Linked DNA regions of Homo sapiens: regions 1 and 2 are each linked to region 3. The links come from fine-mapping of genetic effects on gene expression. A gene starts in region 3. Each other region holds a variant in brackets. All regions are shown on one strand. Distances are from middle to middle. Region 1 has its middle 84 kb from the start of ZKSCAN2. Region 2 has its middle 29 kb from the start of ZKSCAN2. Region 3 holds the start of ZKSCAN2 (zinc finger with KRAB and SCAN domains 2).

Region 1 (5,228 bases), 83 kb before region 3:
GTTGAGAAAATGGTCCTTAGCTTAAGGAAGACAGCCTTTAGCAGAGACAGCAATTGTCAGCAAGGGACAATGCAACATGCTCAGTGTGTTAGAGGAAAGGTTCACAGATGCTCTGGTAATAGGTTGGAGTTAAACAGAGACAATGTATTTGCAATGCATATAACAAATAAAACTGCTAAATGAGTTCTCTCAAACTGATGAGAAATATACTAACACCCAACAGGAAAATGGAAAAAGGCAGGAACAGGCCAATAAATATATGTTAATTAAAAATGAGATACTATTTCACCCCGACAAAGGCAAAAATTTAAAATGAGGCCAGGCACAGTGGCTCATGCCTGTAATCCCAGCACTTTGGGAGGCTGAGGCAGGCGGATCATGAGGTCAGGAGATCGAGACCATCCTGGCTCACACAGTGAAACCCTGTCTCTACTAAAAATACAAAAAAAAAAAAATTAGCCGGGCATGGTGGCAGATGCCTGTAGTCCCAGCTACTTGGGAGGCTGAGGCAGGAGAATGGCATGAACCTTGGAGGCGGAGCTTGCAGTGAGCCGAGATTGTGCCACTGCATTCCAGCCTGGGCGACAGAGCGAGACTCCACCTCAAAAAAAAAACAAAAAAAAAGTAAAATGAGAGGAAACTCCCAGAGCTGGCAAGATGCTAGAAGAAACATATATTGTCATGTCACTGGGGAAATGTGAGTCATCAGAGCCTTTTGTGGAACCATAACCATGCCATGTTTATTCAACTTAAAAGTACATATACTGGCCGGGCGTGGTGGCTCAAGCCTGTAATCCCAGCATATTAGGAGGCTGAGGCAGATGGATTACTTGAGGCCAGGAGTTCGAGACCAGCCTGGCCAACATAGCAAAATCCATTTCTACTAAAATATACAAAAATTATCCAGGTGTGGTAGTGCACACCTATAGTCCCAGCTACTTGGGAGGCCGAGGCATAAGAATCTCTTGAACCTCGGAGGTGGAGGTTGCAGTGAGCCAAGATCCTGTCACTGCACTCCAGCCTGGGTGACAGAGCAAGACTCCATCTCAAAAAAAAAAAAAAATAGTACATGTACTGTTTATCTTGATCTGTCCTTTTTTGGTAATCTATCCTATATAAATAAAATTATTATTTGTGAAGGCAATAAAACTAAAAACAAGTTAAGTAACCATGGCTCTTCCATATTATGGAATATTAAGTAGCTAATATAAAGAATGAGTTAGATCTATGACTGTTAGCCCAAAAGGGTATCCATTATGTATTATTAATGAGAAAAGGAAGTTGCAAGAATATATACAGTATGATTTCGTTTGGGTAAAAACAATGACAAATATTCTGTGTGTGTGTGTTTGCATGTGCATATTTGTAAATGTGTATGGAGAAAGAATAAAAGGATATACTCTAGGCTCTTAACATTCATAACTTTTTTGGAAAAGAAGATACAATAAGAGAGAGACTTTTCTCTTATAAATTGTTTTTTGTTTGTTTGTTGTTTGTTTTTTTTCCAAGACAGGGTTTCACTTTGTCACCGAGGCTGGAGTGCGGTAGCACAATCATGACTCCCTACACCCTCAAACTCCTGAGCTCAGGCGAACTTCCTGTCTCAGCCTCCCGAGTAGCTTCAGACCACAGGCACACACCACCATGCGCGGCTAATTTTCTTTCTTTCTTTCTTTCTTTTTTTTTTTGTAGAGAAGAGGTCTTGCTATGTTGCCCATGCTGGTCTTGAACTCCTGGGCTCAAGTGTTCCTCCCGCCTTGGCCTCTCAAAGTGTTGGGATTACAGGCTTGAGCCACTGTGCCCAACCAATAGACATTTTTTTTTTTTTCTAGAAACTGGTTTCAGTTCTTGTGCCTCTGGGAAGATAAAAAAGATATATTTTCCCTATTCTTCCTACTAAGTAAAACTAAAAACCCTTGACATTACATATAAAACAAGCAAAGGATTCTGAAATGAGGAGAAAGCAAACTGGCTGGGGATCAAGGAACAACACGTGGATCTGCTCACTTGGTTTCTTTTCATTTTGTGTATCCCAGACTTGAAGCTGAAGAAGCTAACAAAAAAGCCTGTATAAAAGCCCAATCTTTCTGCCAAAAAACAAAAACAAAAAAGAACAGGAAAAGAGCAATCTAGCAAGAGAGAAAACTCTGGACAATATAACCACTTAACTACATCCAAACACCATAGAAAAATTGTGGCCCTGTGTCCAACCACACCAGCAGACTGAGTGAGACAGCCCAGACTTCCACTTCCGGGGGACCCGTGGGACTGTAGCAAAACATTTAACATTTTT[G/A]TCACAAGAGAACCAGAAAGACAGAAGAAAGAGGATAGGACAACAACAACAATAACAAATAACATTTTTTTTTAAAGAAATCATGGCTGAAAACTTTCCAATTTAACAAAACTTCAAAACTTCATTTCTTTCCATCTATTTTGTCACTTTTTAGATTGGAAGGTGGTTTAACAAGGCTTACAGGTGATCCGGAAGCATGCTTGAGTGAGAACCATTGCTCTAGTAATTCCCCAACCAGAAACCTGGGAGTAAGTCTTGATTCTTCACGTTCATCCCCTATCCACATTTAGCCAAGCCTGTCTATTGTACCTCAAAGTTCCTCCACCTCTTTCTCTCTTCACTACCACTATCCTAGTCCAAATGACCATCATCTCTTGCCTGGGCTGATGTAACATCCTTCTAAAGCTATGGTTCGCAACACTAGTTACAGTGATGCCTGGCCCCACTCCCAGAGGCTCTGATTTACAATAGCCTGAGGGTGGAGACACCCCTGAGTGACTGTGTCTTTAGCAACTCCCCAGGGAGGTATAATACACAGCCCACATGGAGAGCCATCTGAAATCATCTTCTCCTTCCACTCTTGCCTTTCTAGAAGTGCTGCTTCCAGGAAACACCCCAGAGGGTACCATTCACATTGTGGTTTGCATAAACCGTGGAGGGCTGCATAGAGATTGCCCTGCCCTGGCACTTATTCTCTGCAAAGCAGGAGGAAGAATATTCTTAAAACATAAATCCTCTGTTTGGCTTTCACTTATAAGTGAGAGCATGTGGTATTTGGTTTTCTGTTTTTGCGTTAGTTTGCTTAGGATAATGGCCTCCAGCTGGGTCCATGCTGCTGCAAAGGACATGATTTTGTTCTTTTTATGGCTGTGTAGTATTCTATGGTGTATATGTACCACATTGGGTAAGTGTGGACATAAAGATGGGAACAACAGACACTGGGGACTTGATATGGTTTGGCTGTGTCCACACCCAAAACTCATCCTGAATTGTAGCTCCCATAATTCTCACATGTCATCGGGGTACCCGGTGGGAGGTAATTGAATCATGGGGGCGGGTCTTTCCCATATTGTTCTCATGACAGTGAATAAGTCTCCTGAGATCTGATGGTTTTTTGTTGTTTGTTTATTTGTTTTGGGACAGAGTCTCGCTCTGTTGCCCAGGCTGGACTGCAGTGGCGCAATCCTGGCTCACTGCAACCTCCGCCTCCCAGGTTCAAGCGATTCTCCTGAGTAGCTGGGGCTACAGCTGCGTGCCACCACGCCCAGCTAATTTTTTATGTTTTTAGTAAAGACGGGGTTTCACCGTGTTAGCCAGGATGGTCTCAATCTCCTGACCCCGTGATCCACCTGCCTCGGCCTCCCAAAGTGCTGGGATTACAGGTGTGAGCCACCGCGCCCAGTCGATCTGATAGTTTTATAAAGGGGAGTTCCCCTGCACAAGTTCTCTCTTGCCCGCCACTGTGTAAGATGTCCCTTGCTCTTCTGCCATGACTGTGAGGCCTCCCCAGCCATGTGGAACTGTGAGTCCATTGAACATCTTTACTTTATAAATTACCTAGTCTTGGGTATGCAGCTGGAGAACAGACTAATACAGGACTACTAGAGGAGCAAGAGAGGGAGGGGGGCAAAAGGCTGAAAACTACCTATTGGGTATTATGTTCACCTGGGTAATGGGATCATTCTTACCCCAAACTTCAGCATCATGCAATATATCTTTGCAGCAAACCTGCACATGTATGTTCTGATTCTAAAATAAAAGTTGAAAAATTTTAAAAAACATAAATCTTATTAGGAGTTTCCCCTGCTTAAACACATATGTGCCTTACCATAATACACAGGAGAAAATCCACGCTCCTTACCAAGGCCTAAATGCCTTGCAGCACCTGGCCCCTACTTACAACCTCATCTTCCTTCCATCACCATTCTCTCCCCAGATGGCCTTAATTCAGTTCTTCAGACCCACAGAGCTCTTTCCCACCCTGGAGTCTTCATGCAATTTGCTCCCTCTTTCCAAAATGTACTTTCTCCACTCGTCACATGGCTAACATCTTCTCATTCCTTGGGTGTCAACTCCAGTCACCTCTTCAGCATGGCCTGGCCACAAATCCAAGGTGGCACACATCCCCCAGCCCCCCAGGTGTTCTTTATCTCAATCCCATAGTTACTGTCTTTACAGCACTGTTATTAAAATCATTTCACTTGTCTGTTTGATTGCTTGGTTCCTCTCTCTGTTTCTCTGTCTCTCTCTTACTCCTCCCCCAACCCAGTCTAGACTGAAAGCTCTGCAGAGTCAATGATAATTTTTGTTTTGTCCACCTTAACACAATGCCCAGCACATAGTATACAATACAGATTTGTTGAGGGAATTAATTAATCATGGATCCAAGAGATGATAAGACGTCCAAGTCTGGGCCTCCACACTGGACACCTCTTAGAACTCAGGCAACAAGGCAATTAACACCGGGAAGATTGATCCAAGATTAGGAAACCCTTCCTTGGGGGCTAGGATTCAGAATCAAGACTCCAGACTTGGAAACGAACCATAAAGGGCTCAAGTAGAAATTCAGGAAAAAGGACCAAGATAAAATTCCAATCTTGCAAACTAAAGCTAGCGAAAAACAAGACTTGATGTTTTTGGATACTGAAACCCTTGTGATAGAAAAATAGCAAAAGAAAATAGGAAGCACATGAACATAGAGGACACTGAGACACTGGTAGGCATTCCTGGGAACGCGAGCCCCAGTGGCTCAAGCAACGCTAAGTCCTCATAATAGGCATTGCATATGTCCCAGGATTGATCTGGGAATGGAGGAGTTTGCTGAGAACTGCTTTACCCACAGTTTCCTGTTATATATTTAGTGAGCATTTATCATGTGCCAGGCACTGCGCTAGATGCTGGGTTATAGTAATAAGGAAAACAGACAATGACCATG
Region 2 (5,228 bases), 29 kb before region 3:
AATTTTTACCTCCGCTGGTCATCCCAGCTAGTCAGGAGGCAGAGGCAGGAGAATCGCTTGAACCTGGAAGGCGGAGGTTGCAGTGACCCGAGATGGCGCCACTGCACTCCAGGTGGGCAACAGAGCGAGACTCCGTCTCAGAAAAAAAAAAAAAATTTTTACCTCCAGAGAGCAGGAAAGGAGGGGAAACAAGACATTGTTGCTTTTATTACAAGGTTTTTGGTGCCGCTTAATTTTTTTTTTTTTTTTTTTTTTTTTAGTTAGCATAGAATTTAGTGTCAGAAAAAAATTTTACTGAGCATTTGCACCATGCTAGGTATTTTCTACACATTCATTTAAATCTCACAACCACAACAACAAAAACACTTCCCTAGTGCTTACTATGTGCCAAGTACTGTTCTAAAAGCTTAACATTTATTATCTCATTCCATCTTTGCAATAACTTTATGTTAGTCTTATTTTGCCCACTGAACCAATGAGGAAACTGAAGCACAGAGGGAACAAGTAACTTGCCCAAGGTCATGAGATTGAGAGTCGCGGTGCTGGGACCTGAGCCTGGGTAACCTGGCTCCAAAGTCTGTGTTCCTAACCTCTACACGCTGTTGTGTTGTCTAGCAAAGCCAAGGCATAGATATTATTGTTGGTTTGTTGTTGTTGTTGTTGTTGTTGTTTGAGACAGAGTTTTGCTGTGTCGCCCAGGCTGGAGTGCAATGGCGCAACCTCGGCTCACTTCAACCTCCAACTCCCAGATTCAAGAGATTCTCTTGCCTCAGCCTCCTGAGTAGCTGGGATGACAGGCGCCCGCCACCACGCCTGGCTAATTTTTTGTATTTTTAGTGGAGACGGGATTTCACCATGTTGGTCAGGCTGGTCTCGAATTCCTGAACTCAGGTGATCCACCTGCCTTGGCCTTCCAAAGTGCTGGGATTACAGGCATGAGCCACCACGCCCAGCCCGGGCATAGATAGTATTATCTAATCCTTGAAGGTGAGGAAACATACAGAGAGAAAGCCACTTTTCTAAGATCACATAGATAGTATGTTGTGAGATCTGGTTTGACCATGGGTTAGATTGATTTTGACACCCATGCTTAGTCTCTCCATTGCATCATACACAACTGTGTTTACAAGAATGAGCTAATTGGGAAGAAAAGGAGGCCATCCACCCTCACCACTGCTATTCAACATAGTGCTGGAAGTTCTAGCCAGTGAAATAAGGTTAAAAAAAAGAGAGAGAGAATAAAAAGCACACTAATAAGAAGGGAAGGAAAAAAATGGTCCATATTTGCCAATGGCATAGCAGTCTACACAGAAAATTCCAAGGAATCTATAGAAAAACAACTGGAACTGGCTGGGCACAGTGGCTCACACCTGTAATCCCAGCACTTTGGGAGGCCGAGGTGGGCGGACCACCTGAGGTCAGGAGTTCGAGACCAACCTAGCCAACATGGGGAAACCCTGTCTCTACTAAAAATACAAAAATTAGCCAGGTGTGGTGGTGGGCACCTGTAATCCCAGCTACTTGGGAGGCTGAGACAGGAGAATCACTTGAACCCGGGAGGTGGAGGTTGCAGTGAGCCGAGACTGCACCATTGCACTCCAGCCTGTGCAAGAAGAGCAAAACTCCATCTCAAAAATAAATAAATAAATAAGTTCAGCAGGTTTACAGGATACAAGAGAAAGATACAAAATTATTTGTGTATTTATGTATTAACAATGAACACATGAAAACTGAAATTAAAAATATAATGCCTTTTATAATTGCTCAAAAGATGAAACAATTATGTGTAAATCTAACTAAATATGTATATGAATTACAGGCCAAAAACTATTAAATCAAAGATCTAAATATACAGAGAAACATAACATGTTCATGAGTAGAAGACTCAGTAAAGATGCCGATTCCCCCCAAATTGAGATGCAAATGTAACAGAATTCCTGTCAAAATTTCAGCAAAATTTTCTACAGATACAGACAAAATTATTCTGAAATTTATATGGAAAGGCCAGGCGCTAGAATAACCAAAACAATTTTCAAAAGACATTGATAAACGTAGAGGAATCACTCTACCTCATATCAGGACTTATTAGATGTAACTACAGTAAGGCCAGGCATAGGGACTCACACCTGTAACCCCAGCACTTTGGAGGCTGAGGAGGCTGGATTGCTTGAGGCCAGGAGTTCAAGACAGGCTTGGCAACATGGTGAAATCCCGTCTCTAAAATCTTGTATCTAAAAATAAAAGAAGAAAAATTAGCCATGTGCAGTGGCGTGCACCTGTAGTCCCAGCTACTTGGGAGGCTGAGGCAAGAGGATCACTTGAGCCTGGGAGGCAGAGGTTGCAGTGAGCCGAGATTGCACCATTGCACTCCAGCCTGAGTGACATAAATAAAACCCTGTCTCAAAATATATATATGAATAAATAAATAAATA[AATAT/T]TAATAGAGGTAGCTACAGTAATAAAGACTATGTGATAATGGCAGAGGGAGAGACACAGAGATCAATGGAAATGAATAAAAAACCTAGAAATAGTGCCACATGAGTGCAACCAACTGATTTTTTAACACCCCTCTGCTTTTGCATCAACCAACTGATGTTTTACAAGATGCAAAAGCAACTCAATATAAGAAGTGTAATATTTTCTCCAAATGGTGCTGAAGCAAAAAAAAATTTTTAAGTACTCTGACCTACATCTCACACCTTATATAAAAACTAACTGAAAATGGATCATAGACTTCAACATAAAATGTAAAACTATAAATATTTTAGAAGATAACAAAAGGGGAAATCTTTGGAGCACATGAAGAACTCTTAAACATGACACCAGAAGTGTAATTCATAAAAGAATAAATTGATAAATTGGACTTCAAAATGAAAAACTTTTACTCTGTAAAAGACTTCATTAAAAGGATAAAAAGATAAGCTATAAACTGGAAGAAATTATTTGCAAATCACATATCTAACAAAAGGCCACTTTGGAATAAAGAACTCTCAAAACTGAACATTAAACAAATAATAATAATTCAATTAGAAAATGGGCAGCCGGGTGCAGTGGCTCACGCCTGTAATCCCAGCACTTTGGGAGGCTGAGACAGGCAGATCACAAGGTCAAGAGATTGAGACCATCCTGGCCAACATGGTGAAACCCCGTATCTACTAAAAACACAAAAATTAGCCGGGCGTGGTGGTGCGTGCCTATAGTCCCAGGTACTCAGGAGGCTGAGGCAGGAGAATCGCTTGAGCCCGGGAGGTGGAGGGTGCAGTGAGCCGAGATTGCACTGCTGCACTCCAGCCTGGTGATAGACCGAGACTCCTTCTCAAAAGAAAAAAAAAAAAAGAAAATGGGCAAAAGGCGCATTTCACCAAAGAGGATATACAAATGGCAAACAAGCACAGGAAAAATGTTCAACATAATTTGCCATTAGGAAAATGCAAATCAAGACCACAATGAGCTATCAATACTCATCTATTAGAACATTTGAAATAAAAAACAGTGACAGTATCAAATGCCAGCAAGGATGTGGAGAAACTAGATTTTTTGTATATTTCTGGAGTGTAAAAATGGTATAGCCACCATGGAAAAATAGATTGCCACTTTCTTTAAAAAAAAAAAAAAAATACACTTACTATATGACCCAGCAATTGTACCCACCCCTGGGCATTTACCCCAAAGAAATGAAAACCTATGCCCACACAAAAACTGATCTGTGATTGTTCGTAGCAACTTTATTTGTAGTAGCCATCTTTACATCTATGAGCATATTTATCTCCCACTTGTAAGTGAGAATATGTAGTCTTTGGTCTTCTGTTCTTGCATTAATTTGCTTAGGATAATGGCCTCCAGCTGTACCCATGTTGCTGCAAAGGATGTGATTTTGTTTGTTTGTATGGCTGCACAGTATTCCATGGTGTATACATCTTCTTCATTCAGTCCACCACTGATGGGCACCTACACTGATTCCATGACTTTGCTGTTGTGAATAGTGCTGTGATGAACCCATGCGTGCATGTGTCTTTTTGATAGAACAATTTATTTTCCTTTGGGTATATACCCAGTAATGAGATTGCTGGGTCGAATGGTAGTTCTGTTTTAAGTTCTTTGAGAAATCTCCAAACTGCTTTCCATGGTGGCTAAACTAACTTACATTTCCACCAAAAGTGTACAAGCATTCCCTTTTCTCCACAGCCTCACCAACATCTATTATCTTTTCACTTTTAACAAAAGCCATTCTGACGGGTGTGAGCTATTAATTGGTCTCACTGTGGTCTTGATTTGTATTTCTCTGATGATTGGCAATGTTGAGCATTTTTTTACGTCTGTTGGCTGCTTGTATGTCTGTTTTGTTTTGTTTTAGATAGAGTTTCACTCTTGTTGCCCAGGCTGGAGTGCAATGGTGTGATCTTGGCTCACTGCAACCTCCGACTCCCAGATTCAAGCGATTCTCCTGCCTCAGCCTCCTGAGTAGCTAGGATTACAGGCGCCTGCCACCATACCTGGCTAATTTTTTGTATTTTTAGTGGAGACGGGGTTTCACAACGTTGGCCAGGCTGGTCTCAAACTCCTGACTTCAGGTGATCTACCCACCTCTTTTGAGAAGTGTCTGTTCATGTCTTTTGCCCACTTTTTAATAGGGTCATTTGTTTTTTTGCTGGTTGAATTGTTTAAGTTTCATATTACACTTCTTTTGGATGCATAGTTTGTTAATATTTTCTGCTGTTCTCCAGGTTGTCTGTTTACTCTGTTGATAGTTTCTTTTCCTGTGCAGAAGCTCTTTCATTTAATTAGGTCCCATTTGTCAATTTTTGTTTTTGTTGCAAATTTTTTGAGGACTTAGTCATAAATTATTTCCCAAGACCAACATCGAAAATGGTGTTTCCTAGATTTTCTTCTAGAATTTTTAGTTTTAGGTCTTACATGTAAGTCTTTAACCCATCTTGAGTTAATTTTTGTATGTGGTGATAGAGGTCCAGTTTTATTCTTCTGCATATGGCTAGCCAGTTATCCCAACACCATTTATTGAATAAAGGGTCCTTTCTCGATTGCTTATTTTTGTCAACGATCAGTTGGTTGTAAACGTGTGGCTTTATTTCTGGGTTCTATATTCTGTTCCATTGGTCCATGTTTCTATTTTCATACCACTTCCATGCTGTTTTTGTTACCGTAGCCTTAGAGTATAGTTTTAGGTCAGGTACTATGATGCCTCCAGCTTTGTTCTGTTTTGCTGAGGAT
Region 3 (5,228 bases):
CCAGGTGCGGTGGCACACGCCTGTAGTCCCAGCTACTCAGGAGGCAGAGGCTACAGCGAACCAACATCACTGCACTCCAGCCTGGGAGACAGACCAAGACTGTCTCAAAAAACAAAACAAAGAAACATTCTTGTGAATCATGCGCAGTCTCAGATGGGCAGTTAGTCATTACTTTCTTGGTCAATGCCTTGTGACTAGACTGTGCAGGGGCCATCAGCCTGTTCCCAAAGCTGCGGGTCTGTGTGTTTTATCTGTTGAAGAAGGTCCTGTTTTTTTCTGTGGCTGTTTTTAGTGAATAGTTTACAAACTCAGGCAAAACAATAATTATACTCAAGCAAGCAAGCTTTTCTCTAACATAGAGTCAGTACTGCTGTTACCCGTTGCAGGGCCTAGGGGACTTAGCTGGACGCCTACCTGGCTTTTGTTACCCAATGCAATGCCTCCATGACATAGCTAAATTCCTACTCAGATTTAACTCTGCTTATTTTTAGAAAACAGGTTGTCTGTGGTCATAGGTTCCTTCTTAGCTTACTCGACCTCTGAAGAACCTCTAGCTTCATTCTAATCCAACTTCAGTACTAAATGACATTCCCACTGGTTGCCATGACAGTTGACAATCACCGTGATGACCCGAAGAGACCAAAAAAAGGACAAAAAAAGGGGCAGCTCCTTGATTCCAGGAAAATCTACCTCCCTTCCCAAGAAAAAACATGAATATTCCTCCTCTTGTTCTTAATTTTTATTTTTTTTAGAGACAGGGTCTTACCATGTTGCCCAAGCTGGTCTCCAATTCCTGGGCTCAAGCTTTCCTTCTGCCTCCTCGCCTTGCTCTTAATGCCCAGCCCCTTCATTAAGGACACCTGACGACTAAGCTCTGATTCTTTTGTTTTTTTTTTCTGTTTTGTTTTGTTTTTGACACAGAGTCTCACTTTGTCAACCAAGCTGGAGTGCAGTGGCACAATCTCAGCTCATTGCAACCTCCGCCTCCCGGGTTCAAGTTGAGTCTCATGCCTCAGCCTCCCAATCAGCTAGAATCACAGGCGTGTGCCACCATGCCCAGCTAATTTTTGTATTTTTAGTAGAGACGGGGTTTCGCCATGTTGGCCAGGCTGGTCTTAAACTTCTGACCTCAAGCGATCCACCTGCCTTGGCCTCCCAAAATGCTGGGATTATAGGCGTGAGCCACCACGACCAGCCTAAACTCTTGATTTTTTTAATCCTGCCCAAATTCCTATCTAAGGGATCTGGGGAGTCATGACCTACAAACCATAAATTCTCATCAGATGGGTTTTATTTAATCCTATATATGATGACTTACTTTCCATTCTGACTCTGGCATAACATTACGTGACAAAAAGAAAGTCAAAATATTTTACCCCAAAACATGTTTCCTTGCCCTATTTTGCAATTTCTTCCATAAAGGACAGCATTTTCCCCCAAAAGCTATCCTTTGTGGGGTAAAATGTGCATCTGTAAAGAACATCTATTAACATAGCTAGATGTTTTTCTTCCAGGCCCTCCCAATCCTAAACGGATTAACTAAAAGTCTAACACCTTTTGAAGATCTGAATAGGAAACATTTGTCATCTATTATCTCTAAGAGCAGCCACCATAAGACTTCAAAAGAACCTTAGTCTCCACTATCTTTTATCTTAACCTGAACACTTCCTTTCTATCAATCCCAGGTCTTCAGACAAACTCAACCAATTGTCAACTAGAAAATATTTAAATTTACCTATAGCCTGGAAGCCCCCACCCCCACCCCTTTGCGTTGTCCCGCCTTCCTGGACCAAACCAATGTATTTAATGTATTTGACTGATGTCTCATGCCAACCTAAAACATAAAACCAAGCTGCACCCCGACCACCTTGGGCACATGTTCTCAGGGCCTCGAGAGGGCTGTATCACAGGCTGTGGTTACTCGTATTTGGCTCACAATAAATCTCTTCAAATATTTTGCACGGTTTTACTTTTCGTCAACACTCCCTATTACCTGTAACTTCTCAGTTTCCAAGAGCTGAGAGCTTGATTTGCGAGCTACCCTCCCACTTCTCCAATTCCATGGCCACTGAATGAAGGCTGCACTGCCTGATACTCACACTTGGTCTCATGCGCTGGCTCTGCAACAACGGACAGACAAGAGTTCCTTTGGGGGAAACCAGCTTCCCAGGTGACACTGTTGCCTCTGCTACATGCGCAAAGCGCAGCCTGGCACATAGTAGGTGCTCAAGAGAGGGAAAGCCGGGTCTATGAATTCAGGGACAGGGGCAGCACCAGAAGAGAGCAAGCTGGGGCCTGGCTGGCTGAACCCTGGCCCCGAGACCCCTGTGACCCCCCTTCTCATCAGGATGCACCACATGAACCTCCCCAACGCGAGGGCCAACAAGTGGCCCCAGATGAGACCGCGCCGGGAAGGGCCTGGGGCCACGCACAGATACTTCCGCCAGAAAAACACCACGCCGCGCCGTGCACCTCCGCCAGAGGAAGAAGGTCCCGCAGGGTCGGGGTAACCGCTCCATCCCCGACCGCAACCCTGGACCAGGTACAAGGAACAGATCCCTCCACCGGAACGCCGTGTCCCTCCGCCAGACACAGGAGTCCCCGCTCCCGTGCTCTCCTTCCCCGGCAGCCAGGCCCCGGTGCCGACTCCTCCGCCTCAGGGAGGCCCCGCCGCCGCCTAGATTCTCCGCCTGAAGCGGGACTCGCGACGGCAGGTTCCCTAGAATCCCTCTGTGTCCCTCCGCCCCGGGGAGGACCCTCCGCGCCCCTCTACAATCTTAAAGTCCCTCAGCGACGAGTCACCGCGCCGCGCGCTCTCGCGAGAGTCCACCGCACGGCCCCCCCCCCCTCCCCCAGCCCCTCGCCCGCCAGGACGCCTCGCGCGGGCCCCGCGGCGCTCGGTGGCAGGCGGCGCATGCGTGACTGCGGTTCCCAGCGCCCCCCGCGCTCTCCGCGGGCCGAGTGGACGAGGCCGAACGCGAGCAGCCTGCCGCTGCCCCCTGCGAGCCCTGGCTTCGCCCCGCAGCTCTTCTCCCTTCCGGGCGGAACAGTTTTTGCGGCCTTTCCTCGGCGGCAGCGGTTTCCTCAGGACGGTCGGGGCCGTCGTGGGCCCGAAAGAGCCCGGCGCCGCTCTCGGAATCCGGCGGCCCCAGCGGCACCCGCGGCGGCCTGGACGTGCTGCGGTGACCCGAGCCCGGAACCTGGCGCCGGGCGGGGCCTGCACATCCGGCCCCACCCACTCGGGGACTCGCCTCTCCGCGCCCGACCCGGGAGTAGCGGACACACCCCCTCCCGGCCCGGCTGTCCGCCTCCGCCCAGCCTTTCCTCAGCCTGCTTCATTTTTCTCCCAGTCGTCCAGCCTCCCGGTTTCCGACTTTGCACTAAGAGGGATGCACTCTGGAAAACCACATTGCGCGGTCACATCTTGTTTGGAGAAGAGGCCAGGCTTTTGCATCTTAGAGTATACGTTCACCTTTTCAAGGGCCTGGCATAGATTTGATTAATCAGCCTGGAATACCCTGTTCCTGCCGACCTGGCCGTTTTTACCTCCGTACCTTATCACACTCCCAGGAACATTAAGCAGGGAGCGCTTGGAGTCTTCTTTGGGTCCCCACCTTGAGCTAGACGTGAAGTTGACCCCTGGGCTGCAGCATGGCTGTCGCCCTCGACTCTCAGATCGACGCGCCCCTGGAGGTTGAGGGATGCCTAATAATGAAGGTGGAAAAGGACCCTGAGTGGGCATCAGAGCCCATTCTGGAAGGATCGGATAGCTCTGAGACCTTCCGCAAATGCTTCAGGCAATTCTGTTATGAGGATGTGACTGGACCCCATGAAGCTTTCAGTAAACTCTGGGAACTTTGCTGCCGGTGGCTGAAGCCAGAAATGCGTTCCAAGGAGCAAATACTTGAGCTGCTGGTGATTGAGCAGTTTCTCACCATTTTACCCGAGAAGATTCAGGCTTGGGCACAGAAGCAGTGTCCGCAAAGTGGAGAGGAAGCGGTGGCCCTGGTAGTGCATTTGGAGAAAGAGACTGGAAGACTAAGACAGCAGGTGAGAGAGGATTTTCCAAATTTTTGTACTTAGAAAAAAGGGAATGGGAAAGGCATGTGGGCAGGGATGTATTGCAGAAAGACGTGCTCTTCAGAGAAAGATAAATGGTACTAATAAAAGACCCTATAAGGGGGTCTTTTCACTTTAAGTGAATCCACTTAAAAGGGGATCAGAATTTCACATGAAATAGAAAAATAAAAGCTTTGATTGAAATATTATCTTACAATGGAAACCAGACATTATTCACCTAAGCATTTATCGTCATCTTTGGCATAATGTTTGCAACAAAACAATATAAGAGAACAATATGGTTTTGCGTCACAGAGGTTCACTTACGCATTTTGATCAAAAAAGGCTATTCTGTTCCCCCTTTAAAAAAAAAAAAAAAAGACTTCATCCGTTATCCCAGAGCCGTCTCCAAGCGTTTTACTGTTGCACTCAGTGTCTTCTGAAGTGCTCTCATGCCTTCATTTCTGTCACTCTCCTCCAGTCTAACTGCCACATCTTCATTTCTCAGTGGCTTGCATGCTCTTCTAGTTGTTCTTCAACCTCACTTTCATGAACCTCGTGAAATCCTGCAGCATTTGCAAGATTTGCGGTTTCACCTTGCATCAGACTTGCATTGTGTAGAGATCTATCAGCAGGTTGCTGTATTGGTCAGGGATAGACAGATAGATGTGGATATTAATTTTGTAAGTTTTCATTTCACTACTGTATATATTCATGTCCTGGTAACTTCTTTGCGAACGTAACAGATATAGAGTCAAATAATATCTATTCTAGCAACAAGGAGGCTCTTTCACTCCTGACAGATTTCCTTCTCTGTTTAGTATTAAATATTATTCTGGCCAGGCGCGGTGGCTCACATCTGTAATCCCAGCACTTTGGGAGGCCGAGGCATGTTGATCACCTGAGGTCAGGAATTCGAGACCAGCCTGACCAACATAATGAAACCCCATCTCTACTAAAAAAATATAAAATTAGCCGGTTGTGTTGGTGCATGCCTGTAATCCCAGCTACTTGGGAGGCTGAGAGAGGAGAATCGCTTGAACCTGGGAGGTGGAGGTTGCAGTGAGCCAAGATCGTGCCATTGCACTCCAGCCTGGGCAACAAAAGTGAAACTCTGTCTCAGAAAAAAGAACACTGTTCTGTTACCTTACACCCAGACTGCTGGACAG

Evidence for each region. PIP is the estimated chance that this variant, and not a neighbour inherited with it, causes the effect.
Region 1: its variant is the best candidate, but not a certain one, in a credible set for the expression of ZKSCAN2 in whole blood (INTERVAL, PIP 0.85).
Region 2: its variant is the best candidate, but not a certain one, in a credible set for the expression of ZKSCAN2 in esophagus muscle (GTEx, PIP 0.57).

Annotation. Positions count from the first base shown.
Region 1 is chr16:25,338,733-25,343,960 of GRCh38, reverse strand. No RefSeq gene overlaps it. Among named protein-coding and RNA genes, the nearest start is that of ZKSCAN2, 84 kb to the right of the region's middle. The variant G/A (reference allele first, on the strand shown) is at 2,294.
Region 2 is chr16:25,284,123-25,289,350 of GRCh38, reverse strand. No RefSeq gene overlaps it. Among named protein-coding and RNA genes, the nearest start is that of ZKSCAN2, 29 kb to the right of the region's middle. The variant AATAT/T (reference allele first, on the strand shown) is at 2,433.
Region 3 is chr16:25,255,551-25,260,778 of GRCh38, reverse strand. ZKSCAN2 (zinc finger with KRAB and SCAN domains 2) reads left to right here and starts at 2,934. Exons shown (of 7, transcript NM_001012981.5): 1 at 2,934-4,050. The coding sequence starts at 3,652. ZKSCAN2-DT (ZKSCAN2 divergent transcript) reads right to left here and starts at 3,202. Exons shown (of 1, transcript NR_170220.1): 1 at 1-3,202. RefSeq lists enhancers at 2,073-2,152, 2,273-2,592, 3,008-3,568 and silencers at 2,803-3,002, 3,083-3,322.